6 linked regions of the Homo sapiens genome follow. The protein of the gene in region 2 interacts with the protein of the main gene of each other region in a biochemical or structural test. Each region holds a gene or a part of one and is shown on either strand. Other genes may lie near its edges.

What was found.
Region 1: the proteins of SYNCRIP (region 2) and SYT1 form a complex in vitro, tested with the Homo sapiens proteins (one study listed by BioGRID).
Region 3: the proteins of SYNCRIP (region 2) and SYT3 form a complex in vitro, tested with the Homo sapiens proteins (one study listed by BioGRID).
Region 4: the proteins of SYNCRIP (region 2) and SYT7 form a complex in vitro, tested with the Homo sapiens proteins (one study listed by BioGRID).
Region 5: the proteins of SYNCRIP (region 2) and APOBEC1 form a complex in vitro, tested with the Homo sapiens proteins (one study listed by BioGRID).
Region 6: the proteins of SYNCRIP (region 2) and HMGA2 form a complex in vitro, tested with the Homo sapiens proteins (one study listed by BioGRID).

What each region holds. Positions count from the first base shown.
Region 1 is NC_000012.12:79,283,183-79,288,300, reverse strand, and holds part of SYT1 (synaptotagmin-1), read right to left. Parts: intron 2,515-5,118; coding exon 2,330-2,514; intron 1-2,329. UniProt on the Homo sapiens protein: Calcium sensor that participates in triggering neurotransmitter release at the synapse. May have a regulatory role in the membrane interactions during trafficking of synaptic vesicles at the active zone of the synapse.
Region 2 is NC_000006.12:85,613,476-85,617,799, forward strand, and holds the end of SYNCRIP (heterogeneous nuclear ribonucleoprotein Q), read right to left. Parts: intron 1,873-4,324; coding exon 1,281-1,872; 3' UTR 501-1,280; downstream 1-500. UniProt on the Homo sapiens protein: Heterogenous nuclear ribonucleoprotein (hnRNP) implicated in mRNA processing mechanisms. Component of the CRD-mediated complex that promotes MYC mRNA stability.
Region 3 is NC_000019.10:50,629,204-50,634,321, reverse strand, and holds part of SYT3 (synaptotagmin-3), read left to right. Parts: intron 1-1,510; coding exon 1,511-2,036; intron 2,037-4,150; coding exon 4,151-4,538; intron 4,539-4,809; coding exon 4,810-5,028; intron 5,029-5,118. UniProt on the Homo sapiens protein: Ca(2+) sensor involved in Ca(2+)-dependent exocytosis of secretory vesicles through Ca(2+) and phospholipid binding to the C2 domain.
Region 4 is NC_000011.10:61,573,803-61,578,920, forward strand, and holds part of SYT7 (synaptotagmin-7), read right to left. Parts: intron 1-5,118. UniProt on the Homo sapiens protein: Ca(2+) sensor involved in Ca(2+)-dependent exocytosis of secretory and synaptic vesicles through Ca(2+) and phospholipid binding to the C2 domain.
Region 5 is NC_000012.12:7,655,362-7,660,479, forward strand, and holds part of APOBEC1 (C->U-editing enzyme APOBEC-1), read right to left. Parts: intron 1-5,118. UniProt on the Homo sapiens protein: Cytidine deaminase catalyzing the cytidine to uridine postranscriptional editing of a variety of mRNAs. Form complexes with cofactors that confer differential editing activity and selectivity.
Region 6 is NC_000012.12:65,826,995-65,832,112, reverse strand, and holds part of HMGA2 (high mobility group protein HMGI-C), read right to left. Parts: intron 4,113-5,118; coding exon 4,026-4,112; intron 1-4,025.

The sequences.
Region 1 (5,118 bases), on a different chromosome or scaffold from region 2:
GAAAATATAATTATTTAATAATAATTTTAATTTGTATTCATGCTGTTTTGAATTTTGGGTGATCTGGCGATCATCATGTGATGAAACATCCTCTTAAAATCTGCACATTCTATTTTGCTTTTTTAGCCTTCCTCTTCATAAAATGATGGAACCCATGATTAGCTACTTTTGTCTGCTTCAAAAAGTAGCATAAGCTATGGTTATATAAACGTTTATCCCTGGAGTGTATATTCATCTGTCCAAATTGTACCTTATTCTGTGAATTTAATTGTTCATAACTTACAAAAATTGAGACCTAGCTAATGTCCTATGTAGACAAAGTGCTCTACCTAAAATAACTGAAAACATCTTTTTGAGTGGTTGAAATTCTAAATAATTTGCAATAACAGATTAGTATAAACTATCACTGACTTCTTAATATTTCTTTGTTTGAATCATTTTCTCTGTCTCTCCCCATCCAAAAAATAGATCATCAATGAAAAATTAACCCCCATTAATTCTCTATATTTGAGATCTTGGTCATTTATCCAGGTCATAACAGGGGTAATAAACACCACCACTATGCTGTAAATTATAATTTTACATCATACAGAACAAATCCCACAAATATTATAGATTTATTGTCCTAGGAAGAAATGCTATCGTTATCACTTAACATTATTCAGTAATTTTAATTAGTTCTAGAACACAGGGAAACCACATTCAAATTTTATGATAATTATGAAAAAGATAGTGATCTATTGTCAAATTATTGTTTTCACAATATTGATAAAATTAACATACATATTATTCAGTCCATGTCCATCTAGGAGGTTATTTCCACACTTAATCTCCCAATAAGTTGTTTAAAGAAATCTTTATCAAGTCCTGCTTGCTATGAAAAGTGTGGAAATAAAGTAAGACATGCCTGGAAATTTTAGTTTCTACTTAAATTAACTGAAGAGAAAAATCTTTATTAGACACCTGTAGTTGAACGTTTATGCATTGGCTTTTGTGACTGTGATTAGAAATTGCCAGAAAAATCAAACCCTTGCTACTCCGAGCTCAGGCCAAAACTCTCTGAGTATGAGTACAGGCATTTCATCCATTCCATAGCTCCAAAACAGAACAAAAATGCAGGGAGTAAAACATGAGCCTTTGTGAAATTATTATCAATAGATACTATAGTGTCTTTGAGGAAAAAGAGTTTAAAACTGAAGCTGGGAAGGGGAGTTAATGTCCCTGAATGTGTAATGAACTAGGAAACAACGCAAATGTACTTAAAATGCCTGTTGTAACACCTGATTAAATTGTTCTTAAGGAGATTCAGGTTTAAGAGTTTGATTAATAGTAATTAATAGTATAAGAGGAATTTATAAAACTGCTTATATATTTTGCTATTTGGGAATAAATAAAACTTTTGTATTTGATGAAAACATTGATAATTGAAAATGTTAATTCTATAAAAAATCTGTACATTTACATTTTAATTTTAAAATATGAATTAAATATTCTTTAGAGATATTCAACATGGATATTATTTCAAAAATGAAGAGGCATTTAATAATTATCATTAATAATAGTAAACATTATCTTGAACCAAGTTGTCCAATTAATTTAGCCAAAAACAGATAGCAACATAAAGAACATCCAAATAGCTTTTTTGGGCTTGGAAAGATAACCCAGCCAGATGGATTTTATAACCAGTGTTATGGTTGTAATTGTCCTTATTAAATTGAAATGAGAATTTTGTCTTATAAGAAATAAGAAAGAAAACTTTTTCATAAGGCAAAAATTCTATCCTGTCGTGTTCTTTAGAACTGGCTCATATTTCTCTCCCTTCTCCCATGTAACTCATTATTCTTGAGAATTAATTTTTCAGCTGGATGGACATGTAGGAAAAGCAGCTTTCATCCAGTTTGATGAACAGCCGTAAAACTCAGTTATTTAACAGTGACTATGAACAGTAGAAATTAGAAAGATCCCCTGCCCAAATGCAAAACACTCAGGCACTTTTTATCTGATTTTTCTAACTCTAAACGCAATGAAGACTGGTTAAACAGATGTAATCAAAATATTCAGGCATCATTCTCATATGCCAAACCCATCAAGATGGGCCTGATGATCATGGATGCCCTTTTCTGTTCTATATGCTCAGGAGATTGGAAAACCCTGCCAAATGCTTCCATTATGCTTTGGGATCTTGAACAATGACTGAAAGGTTTGCAAAGCATCTCAAAAACGATATGGGTCCAGAAGTTGTTTATTTCTGTAATTATATGGCATAAAATAATACATTTGTTTATCTTTTTTAAACAAAATAAGAAGAAATGTAGAAAGAATACATTACCTGATCTTTCATCGTCTTCCCTAAGTCTTTTACATCTTTCATGTTAATGGCATTCTTCCCTCCTTTTTCCTTTCCCTTCTTCTTGTTTTTCTTTTTGAACAAACATTTCTTACAGATACAAAAGCAGCAGGTCAGGACTAAAAGGACTGCGACTATGGCTATTGCAATTAAGGCCCACGGTGGCACTGAAAGAAACACACAGAGAGCACTAGTCATACAACACTTAGATGTGGAAAACCTTTTAACTCATGGGCTATAAAGATATTCATTTTTTTCATTTGCATTTTTGAGCACCTGTTATGCTGCAGGTACACCATTCCTCAGTACTTTATCCATGTTGTTGTCTCCCTTGAGTGTATTGTTTCCTTTCTTTCCCACTTTGCCCTTCCAGATATGTCAAATGTCATCTCCTCCCTATTACTTTTCTTGACTCTCCAAGCTAGATTTCTAGGAACACATCTCTTCACTCATTCAGAGCCAAGCTTTGGAGTTCAGCCATTGAGTTTAAATCCTGGCTTCACCATTTACTAGCTGTGTGATCTTGGGCAAGTCATCTAACCTCTCTCTGCCTCACTTTCCTCATCTCTAAAGTGGAAATAAATTGGTAGGTACCCCATAGATCTTTCTGAGTATTAAATAATAAGATGCAGTGCCTGGCACATGGCAAAAGCTTAATAAATGGCAGCTGCTATTACTCATCTATAAAATACTAGGTGTTGTATTCTTATGTTCTGGCATGGTATGGGGCAGATATTAGTTGTATATATAGAACAACAAATGTCAAATCATAACAATAGTGAAGGTTAATTAAAAGTACTTGGTGATTTGAAAATCAAGCATGGGGAAAATGTATGCACTGAAGTTCTCCAGATGTGGGTGATGCTCATGTGTTCGGTGGCTCTTAACCCAGGTTTAGATTTTGGCTTCGGCCACTTAGAGGCTGTGTGACTCTACTCAGATTGCTTCACTGTTCTGAGTTTCTGTTTCCTCCTCTATACAGTGAAGATTACAGTGGTACCCATTTCATCTGGCTTAAAGATGAAAGGGATTAATATGTTAAAAAGCTTTTAATGCATCTGGAACATAGCAAGAGCTCAATTAATGTTAGCTATCAATTCTTTTTTTTTTTTTTTTGAGATGGAGTCTCGCTCTCTTGCCAGGCTGGAGTGTAGTGGCACGATCTCGGCTCACTGCAAACTCTGCCTCCTGGGTTCAAGCAATTCCCCTGCCTCAGCGTCCCGAGTAGCTGGGACTTCAGGCACACGCCACCATGCCCAGCTAATTTTTATATTTTTTTTAGTAGATACGGGGTTTCACCATGTTGGCCAGGATGGTCTCGATCTCCTGACCTTATGATCCACCTGCCTCGGCCTTGCAAAGTGCTGGGATTACAGGCGTGAACCACCACACCTGGCCAAAGTTAGCTATCATTTCTTTATAGTCAAGGCATGGTGGGTAAGGCAGAGAGCTCAGGACATATGAAAAAACATAAACTACTCACACAAGTAAATACCTAAAAAGCAAGATAAATACACAGAGGGGAGTTTAGTGAAAATGCAAAGGCAATGAGAGGAGGACGGATGATTTTTAGATAAGAGGAGAGGCTTAGGTTTACAGGCTGTTTAAAATAATAGAACATATATACATAAATATACTAAAATAAACATTGAGTTTTCTATTACAGTTGTCTCTCTGATAAAAGTTAATATATTTTCTTATTTGGTATGCCTTACACCATGTGCTTATAAAAAATAAGGTGACATGGAAACATTTATGATTTCAGTTAGATTGGAAGGGAAGTATTCATAATCCAAATCACAGCTATTGAGATTAATCAGAAGTAATTAGATTTGTCTGTTGTAATAAAAAAAAAAGATACTGGGCACTGAAATGATAAGAAAAAGCCAAATAAACATTACTAGAACCAATGATTGCTGAACACCAGTCAGGAATACTTTGATAAAGTAAAAACACTTAAAAATTAACCTCTCTTCAAAATTGAGAAAATCTACTCTCTTTGCTTTTCCTCTGCATTTAGTATCATTGTGCAGAATACTTACTATGCATAATATTCTGGCTTATGACTGGATACTAGATGTTAACCTAAGGACATAAAACTACAACTTTTGAAATTGTGTTTTCTACCAAAGAAATACTTATGTGACAGTTACAGATAAACCCACACCTAAAGAAGTTTTCTTCCAGTTCTCTAAATTTATTAAACAAGGTAAAGATTACATAAAAAGTAAATTATTTTATGTAACCAATGATATCATTCATAATACTTCATTTAAAAGCATCTATCTCCATTGATTTAGTTAAAATCCTGTCATGCATGAACAAGAGAGTGTATGTATTCATTGCGGGAAAGACAGCATTCATAATGACCCTTCATTTTGAACCTCATAAATTATTCTCCCAGTTGGACTTGTGTGGTGATAGTCGCTCAGAGAGCTACATAAAAGTCTCTTAAATTGTACAAGACAAGACAAAGATGATTTGACAAGTTCACAAAAAGAAAATAGTGAAAGCAAAGGAACATCATTTAATCAAAGGGAGTTAAAGAGCTAGGAACATGAGATTACAGGAAGAAATTTGAAATAATGCAACTTGAAAGTAATTTATAACCACTGAAAAACTTTTGTTTTATGACTTTTATTTCTTAAAGCACTGCTGTCTTTTAGATTTGCCTTCAGTTGATCTTCTGAATAACTTTAAGTTGGAATATGCTGTATTAAATATAATGAAATTAACAGAATTTTCTTCACAATGTATTGGCACCTTTAGAT
Region 2 (4,324 bases):
TCACTGTTGACCTAGAGTCTGTCCCCCAAAACTCTAACATTTTCCCATCATTACTGTTAGAAGTATAGACCATATGGCCAAAACAAGACTAAAATGTGAAACAAAAATCCAAACTATTAGATCTTTAATACAAACCAGTCTGTGAGGTAAATTTTATCCTTCAGATATATATTTGCTTACCCAAAACTAACTGTAAAGCTGTTTTATTTTTAATTAGGTAAGTACAGTGATTATTTAGAGTGCAACTCACAAATTACCCAAACCTATTCCCATTGTTTTCACACTAGAGTTTCTTTGCTGCTTTCTAGTCCCATGGTGTGCAAAACAGTCAAGAGGGCAATATACTCAATCTGAGTTTTAGGTTAGTTAGGATAAACTTTAGGCAACTGAAAGTGGACTTGTCAGTGTGACCTGCAAACCCTTTGAGACTACCTGAATTTGTCCTTTTATACAGTTCATTCATCACAATTAAGAACTCTAAAATACTTACCAACTTAAACTTACTACATGTATTATCTTTTTATTTTTGATGGGAACATGAAGTCTGTTGTAAAATAGCACTTTAAACCAGAAGCAGAAAACTGCAATAAATCAGTGTTGTGTAATGTGCAGACATATTCCACACAAGAATTAACAAGGCACAAAACCCTTTAATTGGCCTTGACATGCTATACAATTTGAACCAAATTTGCAGGAAATTTTGTGAAAAACGAATTGTAAACACAATTTTAGTAAGTATACATTTAGGTGTGAATTTTTTATTGAAATAAACAACAGCATAAAGAATACAAGTAGCCAAAATGGTTTTGAAAACCCAAATTAGGTCAAAGTTCTAAATTAAAAATAGCAGTTGTGTATCAATTTACCTTATTCTAGCAATTTAAGTTGGTAACATACAAAGTTATTCTGATACAAGATATTAAAGACACACTTGGTTTTAATCAACTACCTTTGAAGACACCAAATCTAAACACTACTGGAAACATCGTTGACACTACAGCCAAATGGACTTGAGCCAAATTTTCTCAAGCACAAATGCAAACTCATTAACTATTTCTTTCAGTATCTAAGAATATCTTTATTGAAAAAAATTAAAAATAAAATCAGTTCGCCAGAAGCAGTTAGAAGTGTGGCTTTGTTCGTGTCCAAGCGGATTGTTAAAATATATACATAAAGGGAAATCTTGCCAGATGTCACAAATTATAGCGGCACCCGTTCAGATTTAGGGTGAGTTTCTGATCAACCTATCAGTCTCCAATTTTACAGAGGCCCTACTGTTTCTACTTCCACTGTTGCCCAAAAGTATCCTGATAAAACTCCTGGTTTTCAGATTTGTAACCATAGTTACCAGAATGATCACCACCTTGGAGCGGTTGCTGAGCAATGGGTTGGGAGCCCCAGTTCTGATTATTGGTCTGGCGCCGCTTGGAATCTGGCTGGTTGTACCCATCAGCTTTGCGCTTTCCTCCTACATTTCCACCGCGGCCACCCCTCGCACCACGTACCCCGCGGCCTCTTTGTTGTTGGGCACCTCCTCTCGCACCTCGAACGCCTCTTGCTGATCCAGGACCTCCTCTCTGTGAATAACCGGCTCTACCGCGGGGAGGAGCAGCCCCACGACCTCTGGATGGAGCAGCACCCCTTGCTCCTCTACCACCCCTTCCTCTAGCTCCAACTTGAAAATCTTCATAACCATAGTATGGATCTTCATATCCACCACGATAGTTATGGTAATCATAACCATAATAATCATAATAATCTTCATATCCATAATAATCTGGAGGATATCCATAACCACCTCTACCTCCACGCCCTCGACCTCTTGTTGGAGGGGGCATATGAGGTGGACCATAATAGTAGTAATCGTCATACCTATTAAAAAAGAGACAGAGATTAGAGTTTAAATCAAATTACTTAGTTAACAAGTAGGCATTTAGCCATTTGTAACAGTTTAAATCCAGAGTTTACTTCGCATAATTCACATAACTTTAATACAGAATTATTTGTACTAGATTAAGTTTTAGTAGTAGTAATGATCAGAGGATCAGGATGACAATATAGGCATCCCAAAATACCACAAATCTCTAGTTATGAACCTTATTTATTTCTTCATGATCTTCAAAATCTCCCAATAAACCTGTTACAGAATTTTTACAATTGATTTAGCTGTCAAATTTGCCACTTTAGGGCTGGGAGCGGTCATGCCTGTAATCCCAGCTATGCGGGAGGCTGAGTGAAGCAGGTGAATCGCTTGAACCCAGGTGGCGGAGGCTGCAGTAAGCCAAGGTCACATCACTGCACTCCAGCCTGGGTGACAGAGCGAGACTCTGACTCAAAAAAAAATTTGTCACTTTGAATTGCATTTCTGCTAAGATTCTATTCCAATATACTTGAAGAACATTTATTACAAAAGCAAAATGGCAAGTAGGACAAGCACACAACCAAAATGTGTGAAGTTCAAAGTTTACTACAGTAAATTAGCATAAAGACCTTAAAGTTTTCCTGTTTCTACAATAATGCTATCCAAGTAAAATTTAAAAGATCTGCTACTTTCCCAAAAATAAACTACACCGTAACTATAGTGCTGAACTTTAACCACTAAACAGGTATAACTTTAGTTGTCAAAGTGATTAGAAAGCAACCACACAAATCAGCATATGCTTACATACTATGTAAAAGGACTAAACGAAGTTACAATATTCCAACTCATGTTCCCTACAGTACAATTTTATACAATTCCTTAAAACTTAGTGATTATTTTGAGCCCAATAATCCCATGAAATATGGAAATTAATCCCTCTTGAAGGAATAATTTACTCGTGTTTTTTATTCCGTACCTGTTATGTTATTTTATTTATTTATTTATTTGAGACACAGTCTTGCTCTGTCACCCAGGCTGCAATGCAGTGGCGCAATCTCACCTCACTGCAACCTCCACCTCCTGGGTTCAAGTGATTCTCCTGCCACAGCCTCTCGAGTAGCTGGGACTATAGGCATGTGCCACCATACCTAGCCAATTTTTATTTTTAGTAGAGATGGGGTTTCACCATGTTGGCCAGGCTGGTCTCGAACTCCTAACCTCGAATGATCCACCCACCTCGGCCTAGAGTGATCTGCCCACCTCAGCCTCCCAAAGTGGTGGGATTACAGGCATGAGCCACCACGCCCGGCCTTATTTTATCCTGAATTATTAAAGGCCCCTGTTCCAACTGACTAACGTAAAAATGTTATTCCGGTTCACTAGGTCCTTAGACCTTTTATGTGCTCTGCTGGTTTATTGTTTTGAGGAAATGATGGAAAGATCATCCTTTTCTATTTCTAAATAGTTCTCACCAGGGATAATTTTGCCACCACCTCTTTCCAGGGGGACATTTTAGACGGTCATAACTGAGAAAGGGGGTGCTACTGGCATCTAGCAGGAAGAGGCCAAGGATGCTGCTAAAAGTCCTACAACGCACAGGGCAGCCCCCAAGACCAAGAATTATCCAGCCCAAAATGTCAGGAGGACAGAGATGAGAAATCCTGGTATAGTGGTTAAGAGGGAAAATTATGGGAGACTAGACTACCTTAGTTCAAATCCAACTCCACTACTTACTATGTGAATGACCCCAAGGAAGTTGACTTCTGAGCCTCAGTTTCCTCATTTCAAACTAAGGGATAGAGTACCTAACTCACAGGAATACAGTGAGAATTATGTAGGAATACGTGCTTAGTTAAAACTTAAAAAAAAAAAAAAAAAGACTGTAGCAAGTTAAAGTACGAAAGTAACATGCAATCATCCCTTTTAGTTTGTACTCCTTTTCAAATATTAACAGATATACTGACATCCTCCACCTTCTATTTAGTATCTCCCTCTATCAAGTACCAAATGTAACTGCTCTAATCACATTATCTAATATAATCTCCTATACTTACATTCTACTTTAATAAATTAACCATATATCGTCTTCTGAAAGAAATAAAAAGAAGTTATTTTACACTGTTTAGTATATCCAGGTGTTTGAAATATAGAGCATTAAAACTAACTCTTTTTGTAGTCTTCCTTCATTTACACTATCATCAAACCTACAAAGTATATTTTCTTTGGTCCCAGAACAAGCATGGGTCACTTGGATAATCACATAATCCAGAGCTATTACATAATTTTGTCTGATCCCATTTTAGAACTGAAGAAATTGAGGTTCAGAGCTTGCCAACTTGTCCAACTGGACAATTAACTGCAGAAACTAGAACTTGATCAATTCCCTGATTATGAAGTAACAGAAATATGTAGAAGCATCCTCTTCCTTTAAATTCCAAACAGGGCAATCAACAGAAAATTAAC
Region 3 (5,118 bases), on a different chromosome or scaffold from region 2:
ACTCAGCTGTCCTTGCCGGCAATGGCCTAGCTACCTGCTTCCCCACCATAACCCACTGTCTGTCAGGAGTAGGGATTTTCCCTGTCTTTCACTTTGTCAACACCCAGAAGTCCATTTCAAAACAAATTCCCATTCCTTGAAGGTCATTTCTGAAAAACCCCACTCCTGGTACCAATTACTGAAGAAGCCTAAAACCTTTGATTGTAAGAACAATTCTGTACTTGGGTTTCTCTGCAAGGCATATCAGCACATATGTGGCATTCAGAATGTGTTAGCTATCTTGTTGATGGTGTTGGACGCACATAGTGGCAGCAATAGGATTTATTATTCTAATAAAAATTCACATTTGAACTACCATTTATTGGGAAGCGTTGAGGTGTGATAGCATCATAGTAAAGACCATGGGCTCTGAAGCCAGGCTTCCCAGACTTAAATCCTGACTCTACCACCTACCAGCTATGGACTTTGAGCAGGTAACTATGGGTATACAGACCTCAGTTTTCTTTTGTGGAAAACAGGGATAAATATGTTGCCAACCTCATGTAGTGCCTGGCAGGCTTAAATAACCTGATCTCTATAAAGTACTGAGCTATTTGGTATGTAATCACCCCTCAAGATATGTTTGTTATTATCTTCCACATGTGATTTACCTTCTGCATTCCTTCAAACTACTGTAAGAGGGAAGAACTGATTTTTCCTACTTGGAAAATGGGAAATGTAAGGTTCAGAGTGGTCAAGATATGTTCCCAAGGCCACACAGCAAGCGTGATTTAAACCCTGCCCTGCCTAACTGTGTCGTGCAGGGTCCATGCTTCCTTGACCATCTCTGAGCATTTTGGAGGACCTTGGTGCTACCTCACATGTTGTGTTCTATTATAGAGAGGCAGCAAAGTCTAGTGATTAAGAGAATAAAATCTGGAGAGAGACTGCTGGATTCAAATCTCAGAACTGTCATTTATTACTTGTAAAACCTTAAACAAATCACTGAATCTCTCTGTGTCTCAGTTTCCTCATCTTTAAAATGGTCATATAGAACTACTGGGCTGGGCACAGTGGCCACATCTGTAATCACAGCACTTTGGGAGGCCAAGGTGGGAAGATTGCTTGAGGCCAGGAGTTCGAGCCAGCCTGGGCAACATAGCAAGACCTCATCTCTACAGAAAAATTTAAAAGTTAGCCAGGTGTGATAGCACATACCTGTAGTTCCAGCTTCTTGGGAGGCTGAGGTAAGAGGATTGCTTGAGCCCAAGAGTTCGAGGGTGCAGTGAGCTGTGATTATGCCACTGCACTCCAGCCTGAGTAACAGAGATTCCATCTCTTTAAAAAAATACAATACTTAACCTTGTAGAGTTGTAGAACATAAATTAAGTAATACATGTAAAGTGCCTGGCACTTGCAATTGCATGGACAATTGCATGGCAAATATGAAGGGTTAACTCTTTGGGGACAGCAGAGGGAGGATGTACTGTGACCCCATCCTGACCCCTACCTCTGTCCTCGTTCTCTCCAGACATCTCCGTGAGCCTGCTGTCGGTCATCGTGACATTCTGTGGCATTGTCCTTCTGGGTGTCTCTCTCTTCGTGTCCTGGAAGTTGTGCTGGGTGCCCTGGCGGGACAAGGGAGGCTCGGCAGTGGGCGGTGGCCCCCTGCGCAAAGACCTAGGCCCTGGTGTCGGGCTGGCAGGCCTGGTAGGCGGAGGCGGGCACCACCTGGCGGCTGGCCTGGGTGGCCATCCTCTGCTGGGCGGCCCACACCACCATGCCCATGCCGCCCACCATCCACCCTTTGCTGAGCTGCTGGAGCCAGGCAGCCTGGGGGGTTCTGACACCCCTGAGCCCTCCTACTTGGACATGGACTCGTATCCAGAGGCTGCAGCAGCAGCAGTGGCCGCTGGGGTCAAACCGAGCCAAACATCCCCTGAGCTGCCCTCTGAGGGGGGAGCAGGCTCTGGGTTGCTCCTGCTGCCCCCCAGTGGTGGGGGCTTGCCCAGTGCCCAGTCACATCAGCAGGTCACAAGCCTGGCACCCACTACCAGGTGAGAGAGGATACTGGGTTGGGGGTCCACTCTGAACTTCTGCTCCTCCTCTGTGTCTCTTTCCTATCTATAGCTCTTATGAGTTCGGGATTTGGAGGGGAATCGGGGTATTGACTCCTGGATCTTAGGGAAAGAGGAGGCTGGGGCCCTAGACTCCTGGATCTGAGGGAGGTTGGGGCTGTGGGGTCTAGACCCCTTGGACCAGAAGAAGTAGGGGACTGGGGGCCTGAATTCCTGGGTCCAGAGGGAGGAGACTGGGGGCAGGACTTAGGACAGGAAAGTAGAGGAGAATAAGGTTGGATCCCCAAGTCCCCTGTGGCACAAGGCAGTTCACCCCCTTTCACCCTAAGCCAGGATTGGTAGTGGGACCTGGAGTTCCTTCATTCATTATTTCTCAATATACATGTAAATGTATATTGAGCACTGATATAAACTAGGCCTGAGAGGGGTGTTAGGAAAACACCAGACTCTGCCCTCCTGTCACTCACAGCGCAGGGGAGGCGACCCCCAGACTGGCTGTCCTGGTGTAGCCAGGTTGGTGAGACAGGAAAGCGACTCAGGGAACCGCAACTGGGAGAAGGCTGGGAGCTTCCTGGAGGTGGAGATGTCTCAGCTGAGACCTGCAGGCTGAGGGAGAGTTGGGAAGGCAAAGAGGCAGGGCTGTGACCTGGGCATTCCAGGTGAAAGGAGAGGCCCAGGCAAAGACAAGAGGAGAACGAGATCCTAGTGCATTGTGAGGACAGCCCACACCAAGGGGACAGCCAGGGCACCAAGCCTTAGTCACCAAGGCATGAGAATAAGTTTGAAAAACGGAAAACTTCAGGCTGGGCGCAGTGGCTCATGCCTGTAATCCCAGCACTTTGGGAGGCCGAAGTGGGCAGATCACTTGAGGTCAGGAGTTCGAGACCAGCCTGGCCAATATGGTGAAACCCCATCTCTACTAAAAATACAAAAACAAACAAACAAAAATAGCCGGGCATGGTTGTGTGTGTCTGTAATCCCAGCTACTCGGGAGGCTGAGACGGGAGAATCTCTTGAACCTGGGAGCCAAGATTGCACCACTGTACTCCAGCCTGGGCAGCAGAGTGAGACTCCATCTCAAAAAAAAAAAAAAAAAAGAAAGAAAGAAAAAAGAAAAAGAAAACTTCAGAGATGTGACTACAGACACCAGACCACATGGGGCTTTGAGTGCCCGCCTGAGGGTCTGGGACTTTGTCCTGAGGGCACTGAGGAGCCATGGGAGGGCTGTGAGCAGGGGAGGGGCAGGCTCAGCTCTGGGTGTAGAAGGAACCCTCTGGGGCCATATGGGAGTGGGCTGGAGGGAGACACTGGAGGCTGAGAGTCCAGGAGAGGACAAGGCCTGAGCTGTGACCAGGACAGTGGGGATAGAGAGGAGAGACAGCCGGGGAGATTAAGAGAAGGGCAGAAGAGCGTTCAAAGAAGGTCTGCCAGGGGTCCATGGAGAAGCATCCTGGGTCACCAGCTTGAGGTCCAAAAGAGGTTACTGGAAGCTGGTTTATGCACAGGTCTGGGCTGGAGCTAGCTTTGAAATGGGGAGAATGAGGCTGGGTGTGGTGGCTCACACCTGTAATCCCAGCACTTTGGGAGGCCGAGGCGGGCAGATCATCTGAGGTCAGGAGTTTAAGACCAGCCTGACCAACATGGTGAAACCCCATCTCTGCTAAAAATATAAAAATTAGCCGGATATGGTGGTGCATGCCTGTAATCCCAGTTACTCGGGAGGCTGAGGCAGGATAATCACTTGAACCTGGGAGGCAGAGTTTGCAGTGGGCCGAGATCGCGCCTTTGCACTCCAGCCTGGGTGACAAGAGCAAAACTTCGTCTCAAAAGAAAAGGAAAGAAGGAAGGAAGGAAAGAAGGGAGGGAGGGAGGGAGGGAGGGAGAGAAGGAATGCCCCCCAGATACCAATGGGGAATCTGAGGCTCAGAGAGCACAGTGGCTTCCTCAAGCTCACACAGTGAGCAAAGGAGGGGACTTGTGGCCACCTGGCTGGGGGATGGGGGGAAAGGCAGGGAGGAGTCTCCCAGGTCTCTGCATGCAGTCGAAGATCAGAGCCACTGACCTCACCTTGGTCTCCCCCCAACCCCCTACAGGTACCCAGCCCTGCCCCGACCCCTCACCCAGCAGACTCTGACCTCCCAGCCGGACCCCAGCAGTGAGGAGCGGCCACCTGCCCTGCCCTTACCCCTGCCTGGAGGCGAGGAAAAAGCCAAACTCATTGGGCAGATTAAGCCAGAGCTGTACCAGGGGACTGGCCCTGGTGGCCGGCGGAGCGGTGGGGGCCCAGGCTCTGGAGAGGCAGGCACAGGGGCACCCTGTGGCCGTATCAGCTTCGCCCTGCGGTACCTCTATGGCTCGGACCAGCTGGTGGTGAGGATCCTGCAGGCCCTGGACCTCCCTGCCAAGGACTCCAACGGCTTCTCAGACCCCTACGTCAAGATCTACCTGCTGCCTGACCGCAAGAAAAAGTTTCAGACCAAGGTCCGGAGCAGCGGGCTGGACACCGGGTTCCCACAGAGAGGGAGCTAGGGCTCTGGACTCCCGGGTCTGAGGGAGGAGGGGCTGGGGGCCTGGACTCCCGGGTCTGAGGGAGGAGGGGCTGGGGGCCTGGACTCCCGGGTCTGAGGGAGGAGGGGCTGGGGGCCTGGACTCCTGGGTCTGAGGGAGGAGGGGCTGGGGGCTGGACTCCTGGATCCTGTGGAGGAGGGGCTTATGGGCACGGTGTCTGTCTCCTGTCGCCCACCACCACCAGGTGCACAGGAAGACCCTGAACCCCGTCTTCAATGAGACGTTTCAATTCTCGGTGCCCCTGGCCGAGCTGGCCCAACGCAAACTGCACTTCAGCGTCTATGACTTTGACCGCTTCTCGCGGCACGACCTCATCGGCCAGGTGGTGCTGGACAACCTCCTGGAGCTGGCCGAGCAGCCCCCTGACCGCCCGCTCTGGAGGGACATCGTGGAGGGCGGCTCGGTCAGTGGCCCTCTCCCCTGACCTTCCCCTTCCCAGGGCCCTGAGACCCCCCGGGTTGCAAGCCCCCTGCCCTCAGAGTTCATAACTTCC
Region 4 (5,118 bases), on a different chromosome or scaffold from region 2:
TGCTCGCTCACATGGCAAAGCTCTTATTCTTCCTTCAGGACTCAAGGCCCTGTATCTGAAGCTCACACCCTTAGGTCTGGCAGCGTGGCTGGAATCCCAGACCTACTTCTAACTGCAAGTTCGCACTTCCCAAGGTGGTTCTGAGGATGGAGGCGCTAACGCATGTTATGTGCTTAGAACAGCACCTGGCACATAGTGAGCACACAACATGTCTCTGCTATTCTGATGGTAACCTAACTGACACTGCCTCCATGAAGCCCTCCCCAACTCCTCCACCATGGAGGTAGCAGGCATGTTCTCCTTGGAGGATCCAGAACCCTCATCCCACACATCAATTGCTTGGTACAGGACAATGTTGAGAACAGCTACCGCTGGCTGAGTGTTTACTATGGGCTGGCTCTCTGCTAAATACTTTTTCTGCCTTATCTCACCTCATCTTCCAACCGCCTGGGAGGTAAGAACCATCATCATACCCATTTAACAGAAGAGGAAACCCAAGGCCAGAGAGGTGGGCTGACCTGCTCCAGAGACAGAGCAGCAAGTGTCTCTGCCAGGATTCAAATCAATAGCTGTTTGACACTAGAGCCCTAGCTCAAGCAAGCTGTCCCTGGAGGCACATATGTAAAGTGCTCAGCACATACTGAGTGCTCCACAAGGCTTGCTATTATCATACTATTGTTATTATCAGGGGAGGACACAGGATGTGTTTGGTGACCTGAGACGGGATTCCTTAAGCTGGTCCCTCTGCAAAGCACAAAACCCCCATTCCTGGAGAAAGTGTTTCCAAGGGTCCCTTGGCTGCCATCCCTGACCCCCATCCTTGGATGGGGGTCAGGGATGGTAAGGAGGTGTGCAGGGAGTCCCAGTATCTGGACGCGGGGCACTTCCTCTGAGGGGTGCTGGAGCAAGCAAATGCTTGAGGGGGCCCTCCCGGGCCCAGGCCTGGCAGAGCGGGAGAGAGCCTGCTATGTGCCAGCCATGCTGGCCGCCGCTCTCTGGCCTCGCTGACACCACCCCATGGTAATGAGACGGATCCAATTTGTACCCAGGGCCCCGCCGGGAGCAGCTGCCGCGGCAGGGTTTGAAGTAATTTAATTGGACACATTAGCTGCATGCTCTCTCCTCCACTCCCCTCGTGCAGAGCCTCATGCAGGCGCCCCTTCTGCCTCCCACCCCTCATGCCACCCTGCCCTGGCTGGTGGCAGGGTGCATGCTCCACCAACCAGCTAGGACTAACAGGTAGGCACCGTTCCTCTCTCATTCCTGGGGCTCCTGGGGGCTCTAGAACCAGAGGGCTCTCTAGGTCCCAGGTTCTCCCCAATCTCTGATGCAAGCAGCAACTATGGCAGCCCACTGGGGCTAGAGTTCAGACCTCTCCCTCCCGTCTCCTACAATGGGCAGAACAGTCACCCCCCTTTCTCCTTCAGTCAGCCATGGAAGCCACCAGCCTTCTGCACTCCAGGAAGGACACCGAAGGAGCAGGGCCAGCAGCATATGCCTGTTTTACCAGCATCTTTGGTTTTGTCACTATTAGGGTTTGTCACTATCAGGGTCACTACAGAGATGATAGGCAGCCCTCCTCTTAGGGCCTGGGGAAGCAGTGCATACACACATGCACAGACCAGACCTAGTCACAAACACACAGGCGAGATCAGTTTGACCCAGACACATACACACATACTAACAGCCCCACACCGTCATGGAAATGCTTGTATCTTACACATGAAAGCTCCCATGATCACCCCCGTCCACACCCATGTATGCCACACAGCCAGGTAAGGCCCTGCTCCGAGCAGACGAGGCCTTCATGGCCATGCCAGCAGGTGGGAGGGTGTGGCAGGGGGTAGGCAGGGTCCCTGGCACACAGGCCCTGCCTGGCCAGGTACAGGGCCGGGGGAGGGGCCCTCCCCTAAAGCTTTCCGTCATAGCTCCCCACGCACCTCAACGCGCCTCGCTACAAATACACTCATTAGCTGCTGTTTACAGCGGTCCTGGCACTTCGATAAGCACAGATATTATGGCCATCCAGCTGCCACCCGCACACACACTAGGTACACATACAGACAGTGCCTCTCCCCCTGCCTCCGCCCTCCCCTTCCACCCGTGGGCTCAATCACATGAAGATACCAATTCCCCAAACATGCAGCTTTGCAGGGGTTCCAGCTCACAATACCTCAGCTCCCGGTCCATTCTATCCCAAGGGGTCCTTCCAGGTGGAGGCTGCAGAGACTCCCCAGAGCAGGCCGGATGCACCTGCCCGCCTTCCAACCAACTGGACCTGGAATTCCAGGCCAAAGCTCTGGGCACAGTCCAGCCCTTTCCACAAGTCCCATGCTGTCTGCCAACTCTGTTCCAGCCCTTGGGGAATTCTGCTGGGTGAGACCAAAGCCCTGCCCTGCAGACACTAGTTGGACAGGGCCCAGCAGGGCTGCCCCTGCTGCCTGGAAGGTCAGGGACCTCCATGCCCACGGAACTGGCAGAATTCACCTGGCATCACCAGCTGGGGTTCCCTGGCAAGGCAGGCAGGCACCCGGGCTGGGCCTGGCACAGGCTGGTGCCGGCACCTGGCCAGACCAGTGACTGCCCCGACGAGAGAAAGTTGACCTCTCGGCCACATATGCCACCTGCCGGGCACTGTCTGTGGAGCAGAGGACCAGCTCTATACAGGGCTGCCCATGCCCACCTGTGATGCCACAGTGCTCTGAGGAGCCATCAAGCCAACTCATTCTCCAGCTGGGGGTCATCAGCTCCGGACTGGGCCTCCCGCCCCCACGTGACCCCTCCCAGCTCTTCTCCCTGCTGTTCTTCTGTTCTTGGCCTCACTCCCCTGGGGGAACCAGTTATTGAAAACGAAAACGGTCCATCAGATTCAATAAGGATTCAAAGTCCGTGAGAGAATAGGGGGTGGGTGGGGAGTAGGATGGGGGGACTCAGGAGGGGCAGGAGGGGGAGGGAACCATATACGGCTCCTCTGCCTGTTCCACACAACATCCTGCAATGGCCGGGCTAGAGGGTGTAACAAGGAGACAGCCCCCACTGGCACTCCATGTTGCCCTCAATGCCCCTTAAGCCTGAGCTTGGGGTCAGCCAGGAGCAGAACCCAGCTGCCCAGGGCCTGTCTTTGCTCACCCAGCACCCACCTATTGACCTGCCTTCCAGCTGTCCCCTTACCTGTCACCTACTGGCCTGTACGTTCCCACCTCAATCCGGCCTGCTCTAACCCCCTCCCCAGTATGAGGAGGGGCTTTGGGGCTATCTCCCTCCCCACTATGCCCCAGCCCTCAAGCGGGCAGCTTGTTGATCAAGCTTCCCTGCAAGGCCACAGAACAGTGTGAACCAGGGCCCTGGAGGGGGCCTGTCTCCATGGTAACACAACAGCTTGGGGGCACTGGCTACCCTGGCCCATGCCCCATTGAAATCATCCTCACCCCCTCTGGGTTTTAGACTTGCCCAGCCTCAGGTCCTCCACTGTGTCCTGGCCTGTGGGGAGATCATTCGATCTTCAGTCCGGACTCTAACTCAAGCCCAGGATGCAGGCCAGGGAGGCCCGGGCATGTGCCGATGGGGCAGGCTTTGGGGAGGTAGGTGGGAGGAGAGAGGTTGTTGGTGAAATGGGTGGACACAGTCAGGCCTCCTTGGACCTTCCCACACTCCAGCCCTGGCCTCTAACCCAGGTGTTCCTCAGGGCATACCCTTGATCTGCCCTTTCAGCCACACCCCTAACTTCTGCACCTCCCTCACCCGCCATCAGCCTCTTCCCCTAACTTGTGCCCAGTGACTGGAGGGTTGGCCTGGACAATCTAGTGGATCCTTCACCTTGAGAGAAGAGGCCCGCTGTGCCAAGGCCCCCTGCCCTGCATGCTCCCAAGTCACGACCTGCCTAGTGGAGTGTCTGTAGGGAACAGAGCCCACTAACAGGTGGGACAAAAGAAGGCTTCAAGCACTACTACTCCCAGGGACAAGCTCACAGAGGGCTGGGGGCAGGGCAGGCAGCCTTCAGGACCTAACCTCTGTCCCAGTGGTTCCCTCTCTGGCCTTGCTTACCAGCTCACTGCAAGGTCACCTCTCCCTCCCTCTCTCTTTTCCTGCCGCTGTCCTGCCTGCCCACTGCAACGCTGACCCCTGCAGGCCTGCTGGGGCCTGCCTGGCCTGGGGACAAGCAGTCCGAGAGAAACAGGGACTTCAGGATGAACCAGAGGGTGAAGGCTGAGGGCAGGAAGAGGCCGTGAAGTCTGGGAGGGGGCAGAAGGGAGGCTGCAGGTCTGGTCTAGGGAGGCTGGACAGAGTGTGGAGCTGGAGCCTGGGTGTGCATGGGAGGGGGCTGGTCTGGGTTCTTCACTGGACTCCGATTATTTCCCACAGTCCTTTTCTTCATTCACAATAGATCAGGGAACCAAGGGCCTGGGGGCCTGAGGCCCAAGTAGGGAGAGAACCACACCTGTCAGGTAAGGTCCTCACAGTAGCTGAGCCCTTAGGGACCTGCATAGTAAGTGGGATGAGGGAGGGAGTACCACAGGGATCTTCTGGAACCAGCATGAGGCAAAGGGGAGCAGGAGAGGACAGATTTTTTTTTTTTTAAGGATTGGGCCGCAGGTGTTCCTGAGAGTGGGATGAGAGGATCAGGATATAAAAGGCACTGGCCCCTGGGAGACCAGAGGGGAGGGGAGGGGTGGCCTGAGTTACACATAAATCAATTTGCATATCTCAGTACCAACCAGTACCAGCCAAGGGGAGATGGGGAGGCAGAAATGGGGGACACAGAGCCCTGGCTTGGGGAGCTGAGTCTAGGGAGCCTTGGGGGAGCTGGGGGGAAGGGAAATCTGACCTGGAACTATAGAGCCTACAAAGGTGGGCAGGGATGCCAGAGGGCAGAGGCCAGAATGAGATCTTTGACTCCTCAAGGACCCCAGATGACTAGGCTCAAAGGCAGACTGTGCCCTCTCCAGCCTATGTCTGACCCCACCCAGCCCAATGCCCACACCGGAGAGGAGTCAGCCTCAGGCCAGCCCCTTTCCCAGTCACAGCTGCCCTACCACAGGCACTGGTGGGTCCCGCAGCTGCAACTGGGGTGGGCAAGACAGGTCCCAACTGCAGCCAGAGAGGCCCATTCAAGGAGGG
Region 5 (5,118 bases), on a different chromosome or scaffold from region 2:
AAAATTGGCTGGGCGTGGTGGCGCATGCCTGTAATCCCAGCTACTTGGGAGGCTGAGGCAGGAGAATTGCTTGAACCCAGGAGGTGGAGGTTGCAGTGAGCCGAGATCACGCCACTGCACTCTAGCCTGAGTGACAGAGCAAGACTCCTTAAAAAAAAAAAAAGAAAGAAAGAAATGGAAATACAGGAAATGTTATGACACGATGGGTAGAGAAGCCTAATGTAGACATGGGCATGGACAGCTTTGAGGGGCCTCACAGGGAGTGGTGCAGACCATGGTGGTGGAGTAGTTTGGAAAATAGAAAAGGAGGTGGCATTGGTGGGGCTTTGATTTTATATATATAGAGAGAGAGTGCAGTGGCTTATACCTATAATCCCAGCTTTTTGAGATGCCAAGGCAGAAGGATCTCTTGAAGCCAGAAATTTGAGACCAGCCTGGGCAACACAGTGAGACCCCATTCCTACAAAATGTAAAATTAGCAGGGTGTGTTAGCACACACCTGTGGCTACTTGAGTGGCTGAGGAGGGAGGATCACTAGAGCCCAGGAGTTCCAGGTTACTGTGAGCTATGATTATGTCACTGTACATAGCCTGGGTGATACAGTGAGACCCTGTCTCTTAAAAAATTAAAATTTTATTTCATTTGTTATTTTTTTTGTGGAGGCGTGTTCTCTCTGTGTTGCCCAGGTTGGTCTCAAACTCCTGAGCTCAAGAGATCCTCCTGCTTCAGCCTCCCAAAGTGCTGGGATTACAGGCATGATTCACCATGCCTAGGCCAAATTTTTTTTTTTTAAAGAAAGAAATAAGGAAATAAATGGAAGATGTGTATTTGAGAATTTATATACCGCAGGCCTGCTGCTCCCCTGCATGACCCTGGTCAGATTACTCCATGGTTATGAAATCATGCCTCACCTGGCCTACAAACTAATCAGTGTCACTCCGTGGAAGAAAGTCTGGGCTGGAAAGGACAGAGGTTCAGTTTCCTGGGGTGCAGTGTGAGTGGCCCCGGCTTTGGAGTGATCTAAGCAGTACTTTGTTTAGATGGCTCTCCTGGCCCTTATCATCAGAGGAATATGGACCCCGCACTCTAGAGGAGGAAGTAAAACCAGGCAAAACCACGTCCTCCATTCAGACTCTCAAAGGTGGTTACAAACTTAAAATGGTCCATGAATCTCAGTCTAGTCTAAAGAAGCAACACAGTGTTGCAATCAAGAGCCAAGGCTCTAGGGTCAGAGAAAAATGGGTTATAATCCCAGTTTAGCCAATTACTTGCTCTAACACATTTGGCAAGTTTCCTAACCTCTCTAGACCTCAGTTTCCCCATTTGTCAAATGTAGACCCTAAGATTGCCTATTCCACAAGGTTGTCGGAAGACTCACGTAACACAATGAATGGAAAACATTTGCAAGGTGCCTGACGCAGCAGATGCTTCATAAACGTTAAGCACTGTTATTACGGCAGCCTTTCAGAGGGTTAGAAAGATGCCTGTTTTATGTTTATTTCAATGGCATGAACATCATTGACATTAAATGTCAACTTGGGAATTTTGAGGAGGTGAGAGCCTCCTGTGTAAGAATACTTCTCTTTCTTATCTCTACTATTCGGTTTGCCATGCATATGCTTATGGATTTTTAGTTTGGGTTGCAAAAATACCCACTTGGTGTCCTAGTGTGTTGTATATACGTGTGTGTGTGTGTGTGTGTGTGTGTGTGTGTGTGTGTAAATAGCTATTTAACAGAGGAAAAAGGGAACTAATAATACTGGTAACATAAACATCTCAATTACATATTTGGCATCCCAGCCAGAATCATTTGAACCAACTGCATTTCGTACTAAGTTACTACCCTTGAATTGAGCCTCATGTGTATGTTTCCTCGCCATGACTGCCAAATTGTTAGCTGAATGTCTAGTTGCATAACATAGAACCTAAGTTGAGCCAGTCCTTGGAATATGTCTCCAAAGTCAGAACACTTTTGAAGTGACTCTGAGGCTTTTTGCACCTTTAAGGCTGGAGAGAGGTGGATTGCACACTTTCTGACGTTTTATTTTTCATATAGAGGGCTAGCCATATACTGTGAAGTATGCTTTCTACGGTAGGCCCAGGCCATTCCCATGAAAAGAAAGTGAGCAAGGGCTGTGGAAAACTGAAGATAAGCCTGCATCTAGAGCTACTAAATTCCTTAAAATAAAAACAATCAATAACAACAAAACAAAATTAAAAAACAAACCAGGCTGTAGGCAGTGACTCACACCTGTAATCCCAGCACTTTGGGAGGCCAAGGCAAGATGGTCGCTTAAGCCTAAGATATCAAGGCCAGCCTGGGTAAAATGGGGAAATTTCCGTCTCTACAAAAAGATACAGAAGTTTAACCAGCTGTAGTGGTGCATGCCTGTAGTCCCAGCTACTAGGAAAGCTGAGGTGGGATAATCACTTGAGCCCAGGAGGTTGAGGCTGCAGTGAGCCATGAGCATGCCACTGCACTCCAGCAGGGGCAAGAGAGACAGACCCTGTCTCAAAAAAAGATAATAATAATTAAACTAAAATTATAAATAAATAACAAAAAAAATACCCAAAACTATTTCCTGGAAAAGAATTGAAGTCTATGACAAAAATGCATGGACTGATCAAAAGTCCCTAATTTCTTCCAATTTCCGAAATAGAATCACCTGGAAATTGATTTGTTCTGTTTTGTTTTGTTTTGTTTTGTTTTGTTTTGTTTTGAGACAGAACCTCACTCCACCACCCAGGCTGGAGTCCAGTGGTGCAATCTTGGCTCACTGTAAACTTTGCCTCCAGGGTTCAAGTGATTCTCGTGCCTGAGCCTCCCAAGTAGCTGGGATTACAGGCATGTGTCACCACACCCGGCTAACTTTTGTATTTTTAGTAGAGACGGGGTTTCACCATCTTGGCCAGGCTGGTCTCAAACTCCTGGCCTCATGTGATCTGCCCCTCTCAGCATCTCAAAGTGCTGGGATTACAGGCGTGAGCCACCGTGCCCGGCCAAAATTGGGTTTTTATTTCAGGTTTGATAGATGATTAAATAGGTGTTGGAGTCCTTGGTTACAGGTACATTATTTTTCAGACTCAGGCTGCGTTTTGAGAAAGGCGATACAGGAATTGGAGACTAAAGATTTTGATTTATGGCTTGATTACCCAACAGAGGTGTCACAGTGCCAGATGGTCTCAGAGTCAGTGGCATGAAGGAAAAAGGAAGTCTGTGAGACCTCACTGTAAGAGGCTCATGACAATAAAATTGAGTCTGAGAACTCTTCTCAAGCTAATATTTTTAAATAATAATCACTTGGCACATATTGATTGAAAATTTAGGCCAGGCGCGGTGGCTGACTTTGGGAGGCTGAGGCAGGTGGATCACCTTAGGTCAGGAGTTTGAGACCAGCCTGACCAACATGGCGAAACCCCGTCTCTACTAAAAATACAAAAATTAGCCGGGTGTGGTGGCACATGCCTGTAATCCCAGCTACTTGGGAGGCCGAGGCACAAGAATCACTTGAATCTGTGAGGCAGAGGTTGCGGTGAGCCCAGATCATGCCGTTGCACTCCAGCCTGGGCAACGAGAGCAAAACTCCATGTCAAAAGAAAAAAAAAAAAAGCACTTCCACCAAAAAAAGAAAATTTAAAAATATATTTATAGGCCGGGCGCGGTGGCTCATGCCTGTAATCCCAGCACTTTGGGAGGCTGAGGCAGGCAGATCACCTGAGGTCAGGTGTTCGAGACCAGCCTGACCAACATGGAGAAACCCTGTCTCTACTAAAAATACAAAATTAGCTGGGTGTGGTGGCGCATGCCTGTAATCCCAGCTACTCAGGAAGCTGAGGCAGGAGAATTGCTTGAACCCAGGAGGTGGAGGTTGTAGTGAGCCGAGATCGCGCCATTGCACTCCAGCCTGGGCAACAAGAGTGAAACTCCCTCTCAAAAAAAAAAAAAAAAAAAAAAAAAAAAATATATATATATATATATATATATATATGTTTATATTTGAAATTTAAAAATCACACACACACACACACACACAAAAGGAACTACCGGCAACCTGGAGTACTTGTGACCAACTCACCATTTAATTTGCACCAGGGAGATACAAATTAAAACCACAATGAGATATTCCTACACACCTATCAGAATGGCTATATGTGTGTGTATAGGTGTGCGTGCACAGACACGCATGCAAAACACCAAATGCTGGTAAGGATGCAGAGAAACTGAATCTGTCATACTTTGCTGGTGGGAATGTAAACTGGTACAGCCATACTGGAAAACAGTTTGCAAATTTATTTTAAAAAAGAAAAACTAAAAATGCAACTACTGGCCAGGCACAGCGGCTCATGCCTGTAATCCCAGCACTTTGGGAGGCCGAGGTGGGCGGATCATGAGGTCAGGAGATCGAGACCATCCTGGCTAACACGGTGAAAACCCAACTCTACTAAAAATACAAAAAACTGGCCAGGCGTGGTGGCGGGCGCCTGTAGTCCCAGCTACTCGGGAGGCTGAGGCAGGAGAATGGCGTGAACCTGGAAGGCAGAGCTTGCAGTGAGCCGAGATCAAGCCACTGCACTCCAGCCTGGGCGACAGAGCGAGACTACGTCTCAAAAAAATAAATAAATAAAATAAAATAAAGTTTCAATTTAAAGAAAGGGTATTTGGGCCGGGTGCGGTGGCTCACGCCTGTAATCCCAACACTTGGGAGGCTGAGGCGGGTGGTTCACAAGGTCAAGGGTTCAAGACTAGCCTGGGCAACATGGTGAAACCCCGTCTCTACTAAAAATACAAAAATTAGCCAGGTGTGGTGGCAGGCACCTGTAATCCCTGCTATTCTGGAGGCTGAGACAGGAGAATTGCTTGAACCCGGGAGGCAGAGGTTGCAGTGAGCAGAGATCATGCCACTGCCCTCCAGCTTGGGTGACAGAGCAAGACTCTGTCTCAAAAAAAGAAAGGAAGGAAGGAAGGAAGGAAGGGAAGGAAGGAAGGAAGGAAGGAAGGAAGGAAGGAAGGAAGGAAAGAAAGAAAGAAAGAAAGAAAGAAAGAAAGAAAGAGAGGGTATTTGGGCCAGGGACAGTGGCTCACACCTGTAATCCCAGCACTTTGGGAGGCCTAGGTGG
Region 6 (5,118 bases), on a different chromosome or scaffold from region 2:
TTAATTTCACCTGCTGAATTCATTTGTATCCTCAGATAGGGCCCTGAATCCGCCTGAATTCATTTGTATCCTCAGATAGGGCCCTGAATCCCACAATAAAACTTACCTGCCCATTGAAACACAGAGGAATTAAACTAAATCATAGTAGTTTAATTTAGAAACCATAGGCCAGAATTATATGATAACTTCCAAAGTTACCTTTCCTTAACTCACCAATAATAATGTCTTTGGTTTCTCCTTTTAATTAGGCCTACTATATTCTGAAGAAAATTCTGTCCTCACTCAGCATTTATGCTGAATGATTTTTCTGAAATGGTGACTAAAACTATCTTCTCTCTTTTTAAAATATCTGTGATTGGTGTGGGTAATGATTATGAAAAGCAAACCACATTTCGAGAAATGCAAATGATTAGAAGGAGCATGAAGTAGTCTTTACAGTATCTAATTAATTCAGGCCTTCTTTTTATAGCAAATCAAACATAGAGATTAAACATTTACTCTGAACACATTATTTTAACTATAACTACTTTATCTAGATATTTTCATTCTGCACTTTGCTTCCTAGATCTGTCCATTACACCTAAAGTCAAAAGGGTGGTGAACAAATATATGACATGATGAAGTAGGGTTATCTCACACCTGAGATCTTTTTTTTTTATTTTCATTTTCCTTCCAATAAAATTTAATTCAACCTCAGAAAAAAACTTCCTAAAATATGTGAATGAGAATTGGCTTAAAACTTAAAGGTGAATTTGACCTGAGACCTTCAACACTGAAGAATTAGTGACAACCCCTCCAGTATTCTGTCATGATTAAAAAAGTACAACAAAACCCTAAACTAAAGGAGATTATAACTTCTTTCTCTCTAACCATCTGGGAACTGTAAAAATGCAAAGATTTCCATCCACCACAACCAGGAAAGCAAAGCAAAGCAAAACAAAACAAAAAAGGAAGTTAAGACATAACTGGTCATAGGTGTACCTCAGACTAAAAAATAAATAAAAGGGTAAAGATATGCTCACACAGACGTATACACACATGGACAAATGAATTATTCAGGAAAACTTTAACTTCTGATTTCTTTTATTCAGGTAACTATATGAAACTGATTCAGGGACAAATTTTGAGCACTCAGATTGGAGTTCTGAGGAATGACTAGAATCATTACACAATGGTCATGCATAGTAATTAGTTTTAATGGAATATTAAGTAGATTGAAGAATAATTATCTTCTCTTCCAAAAGTTCCAAGCATAGGAAATTGTGTTCTTATAAATGTCTTTGTTTTACATATTATATAAATCAATTTTCTACTGAATATGGTTTGAAATTGAAGTGATGGCTAATTTAGTAGTCATTCACTTGGTCTTGCAACATTCTGCATGCATTGTCCAGTTTCACACTGTTAATTTTCAAATCAACAGCTTTGTTTTCAAATGTCCCAAGGCCAATTACTGAATCCAAATATAAACTTTGTAAGTCAAGAAACTCCAAGCAGCAAGAAATTTTAAGTATATAACCATCAGGATTTCAGTGTGCATTGCAGCTCCTCTAATTTTAGGCTTCTTTCTTCTCATATACTTACCAGTCTTTGCAATGTATTTTGCATTGTGATGGGTCTCAGTTTACAGGAAAACACTCACTTTGTTACTCATAGAAGACTTCTCATATCTATTCTGGTCAGTCTCACAGGGTATGTTTATCTTACATGTTATGAACAATATAACTTTTTCTAAAAAGATTTGCATTGCAAAATCCTGACGAACATATATGTTTTGTTAGAACACAATATATGCTTAATAAACAAATGTTTGAAAATCATATTTATATAGAATAGTAACATACTCAACAAATTCTGATTTGAAAGTGAAAATACCTTAAGTTTACACATGCCATGAACGATTCATCAATGTCATTCATTATTTTGCAAGGTATTCTCTTCTCCAGATGAAGCGTAATTTATAAAACTGAAGAAAAATAAGTCATGTTATGGGCAAATGTATTTATTCATTTTTATTACAAGAGGGATTTTTATAACACCATTGTAGGAAATAATTGTGTCTGAAAGAATGAAAGATTCTGGAGAAGGAATCTTTAGAAAAAAGAAAGCCTACTTCTGTTTTGGAAATTGGAATAATGTATGCATACACATGAAGAATTTTCAGAAAGATGAGCGGCGTAGGGGGGTCATTTACAAATGCCTGTCACTAGAGTCACTAAAAATAAATCAACCCTTACTTAGGAATAGATCAACTTTAAAAATTTTGCTTTAGGTGGTAAACTAGGCACTAGCTTCAGCTTCCCTTTTCTCAATACAAATTTTGTTAGTCAGTGGTAAGCTTTTTAAAATGAAGCGGAGGCGATGGGAGCGTTTCTATCTATTCATCCAAAAAACATGAAATATAGTAAAATATGGGAGACAATTCATTTTCCTTTTTAGTATTAAATTTCAAATTACTTATTTATGGTGAAATTTAAAGATTTCTTCCTAGGAGATATTATCATGATGTGTTTTTCAGAGGAATTATACCACAGCTTAAATGCGTGTCAGCTATCTAACAAGATATTCATTTGTGCATCTCCTTAGAATAAAAGTAAATTAGGTAAACTCCACACTTACACAACATAGAAAAACTCCTTGGTAAAATCAGTCCATTTTAGTTAATTTATAAATGAGATAAAATGAAACAAATGTAAAGTATTCATATTAAAAATACCAGATTATATATTGCCATTTTTAAATAACAAGGTTACTTAGAGCTATTTTAAAGTTTATTGATTAAATAAGAAACAATTAAATCTAAACTCTAAGAAGCAATTAAATTTAAATATATTAAAAATATGCTCCTCAACTCTGTTCAAAACTGTTAAAACAGACAAGAACTCAGAGTAACTTCCTAAATAACTTTATATGTACCATTAGTTGCTATGGCAGTTTACATACATTACAGTTAGTACCCACAGTCACAAAGAAAATCACACAAAACATTAATCCCCAAACGATGAGCATATAGTCCTTTCTAACAAATACTGTACATGGAGTACCCAAAACCGGTGAAAAGGTATATCCAAATTTAGTTCTGATTTTTGAAACTTTGTTCTCAATTACTACACAAACCTACAAATACAACGCAGAAACTTTTTTTTCCAATTTATTTATAAAGTCAAAAAAGTGACTGGTACTTCTCTATACATGCATTAACCCTGACATAGTTCCTCTTTGCTAGCTTAAACACAGCCAACCTGAAGTTATCTTAAACTGCAAGTTTAAACTTATTAAGATAAACACTGAATATTACACTTAACTGGGTTCCATTCTGCCCAAAAAGAGATATTAAATGAGCCAAATACTTGTTTTAAAAAGTCTCATTGTCCAATTCAGACATTTCTATGTCACTTGATGAAAAGGCATTTTGAGATTATGATATACTATACTGCAGGTTTATTGTAAAACAAACAGTATACTTTATTATCACAATTAAAGCTGCAAAATTCATGGAATTTTTCCACTATCCCACAACTAGATTTACTTCTAATTATCGTCTATTTGGCAAAGTACTTTAATAGGGGGATTTGGTTTGCAGTAGCCATGTAATAAGCACAAAGTAAATCAATCTTTATCATTTTTCAGAGGAAATTGCAAAAACTTTACCACCAGGCAAAATCTATAGTTTTGATTTGTTTTTAACTATTTACAACTGGTGCAAATATTAATTGTGTCATTTTCATCCCGCCCCCCCCGCAACCCCTTCCTTCCTCACTTCTACCCGTTTTAAGGTTCAAATTATTTGGTGGCTGTTTGTTTAAAAACAACACTGTTAAGTATCTTCATAAACTTTTTATGCTGAGCATCTGCTTACAAAAAAGGTTAACTCGCATCTAACTAATGTTAAATGTAAGAAATGAGTCTTGTGTTACCCAGTTGGGACAAATTCCTGGCTGCGGAGTTAGAATGGGAAAGTTACAGGCAGGCTCCTGTAGTCAGTCATTGATGAAGTTAGGAGAGCTTGACTTGAGAAATCTCACCTTTTGAGCTGCTTTAGAGGGACTCTTGTTTTTGCTGCCTTTGGGTCTTCCCCTGGGTCTCTTAGGAGAGGGCTCACCGGTTGGTTCCTAATTGTGAGGGAAAAAAAAATGCTGTTGTGGCAAGAATGTCTGAAAGAAATTGACCCTGACTCTTTAGCTATATTTTCTGCATGTGCTGCTCAAAAGAGCTGTTGGAACACGTTCAGTTCAAGCATAAATGGATGATGATGGTACAGAGTTTACAGAAAGGGGAAATAACTATACTTTTAATGCAAGGGTTCAAAGAGGAAACTCTATTTTGTATATGAAAACTAGATTCTACTTCAAACCTAAAATGGTAACAAAGACTGAAGAGGCATGTTCTAGAAAGAAAGTCATATACTTTTAAGGTGTAAAGTTTACAGGGCTATGCATTTGGCAACTCATAGGAATAATAGGCATTTTAAACGAACACCACTCTGCATTATACTAGCATTTCAAACAACAGAAATACGAAGCTACCATCACAGATATTTCAACAATCTTCCATATTGAAAAGGTGGCCTTTAATCATCTTTGTATACCTGCCTTCTAGGTGGATTATGATTCAACTGACACATTTTGAGTGAAATACTGGAGCAATTATTCAAGTTCTTCAGTTCAAAATAACTCCATTCCCCCTAAAATTTCCAAATAATTATAGTAAATCTATGGTGGGAGGTTTTGCTTGAATCATCTAGTTAATTGCTTCAATTCTCCACTTCCTTTTGGAGATGCAGGCATGGCCTCCAGTCTAAATTTAAATATCTTTTGATAAAAATAAACATATTTTCTTCAAAACTTTCTTTTGAGAAAACTCTTATGGGGGTGGAGTGGAGAAAACTAAAAGGAGGTAAAAGCGAGGAGGAATGGAGTGTCTGGGAATGAGAAATGGAAGCAATCACTTGGTTTAGCAAAACTTTAAATGGCTCCTATGCCAAGTAGTAAATACTCAAGTGGTTAAGAGAATGCGATGATTAATATTCCAGATCCCAAATATTTATCCAGTGAATCATCTATTCACATTTCATTCAGATTCGGTGATTAAGTGAGACTAATTAACTTAAAACCCATG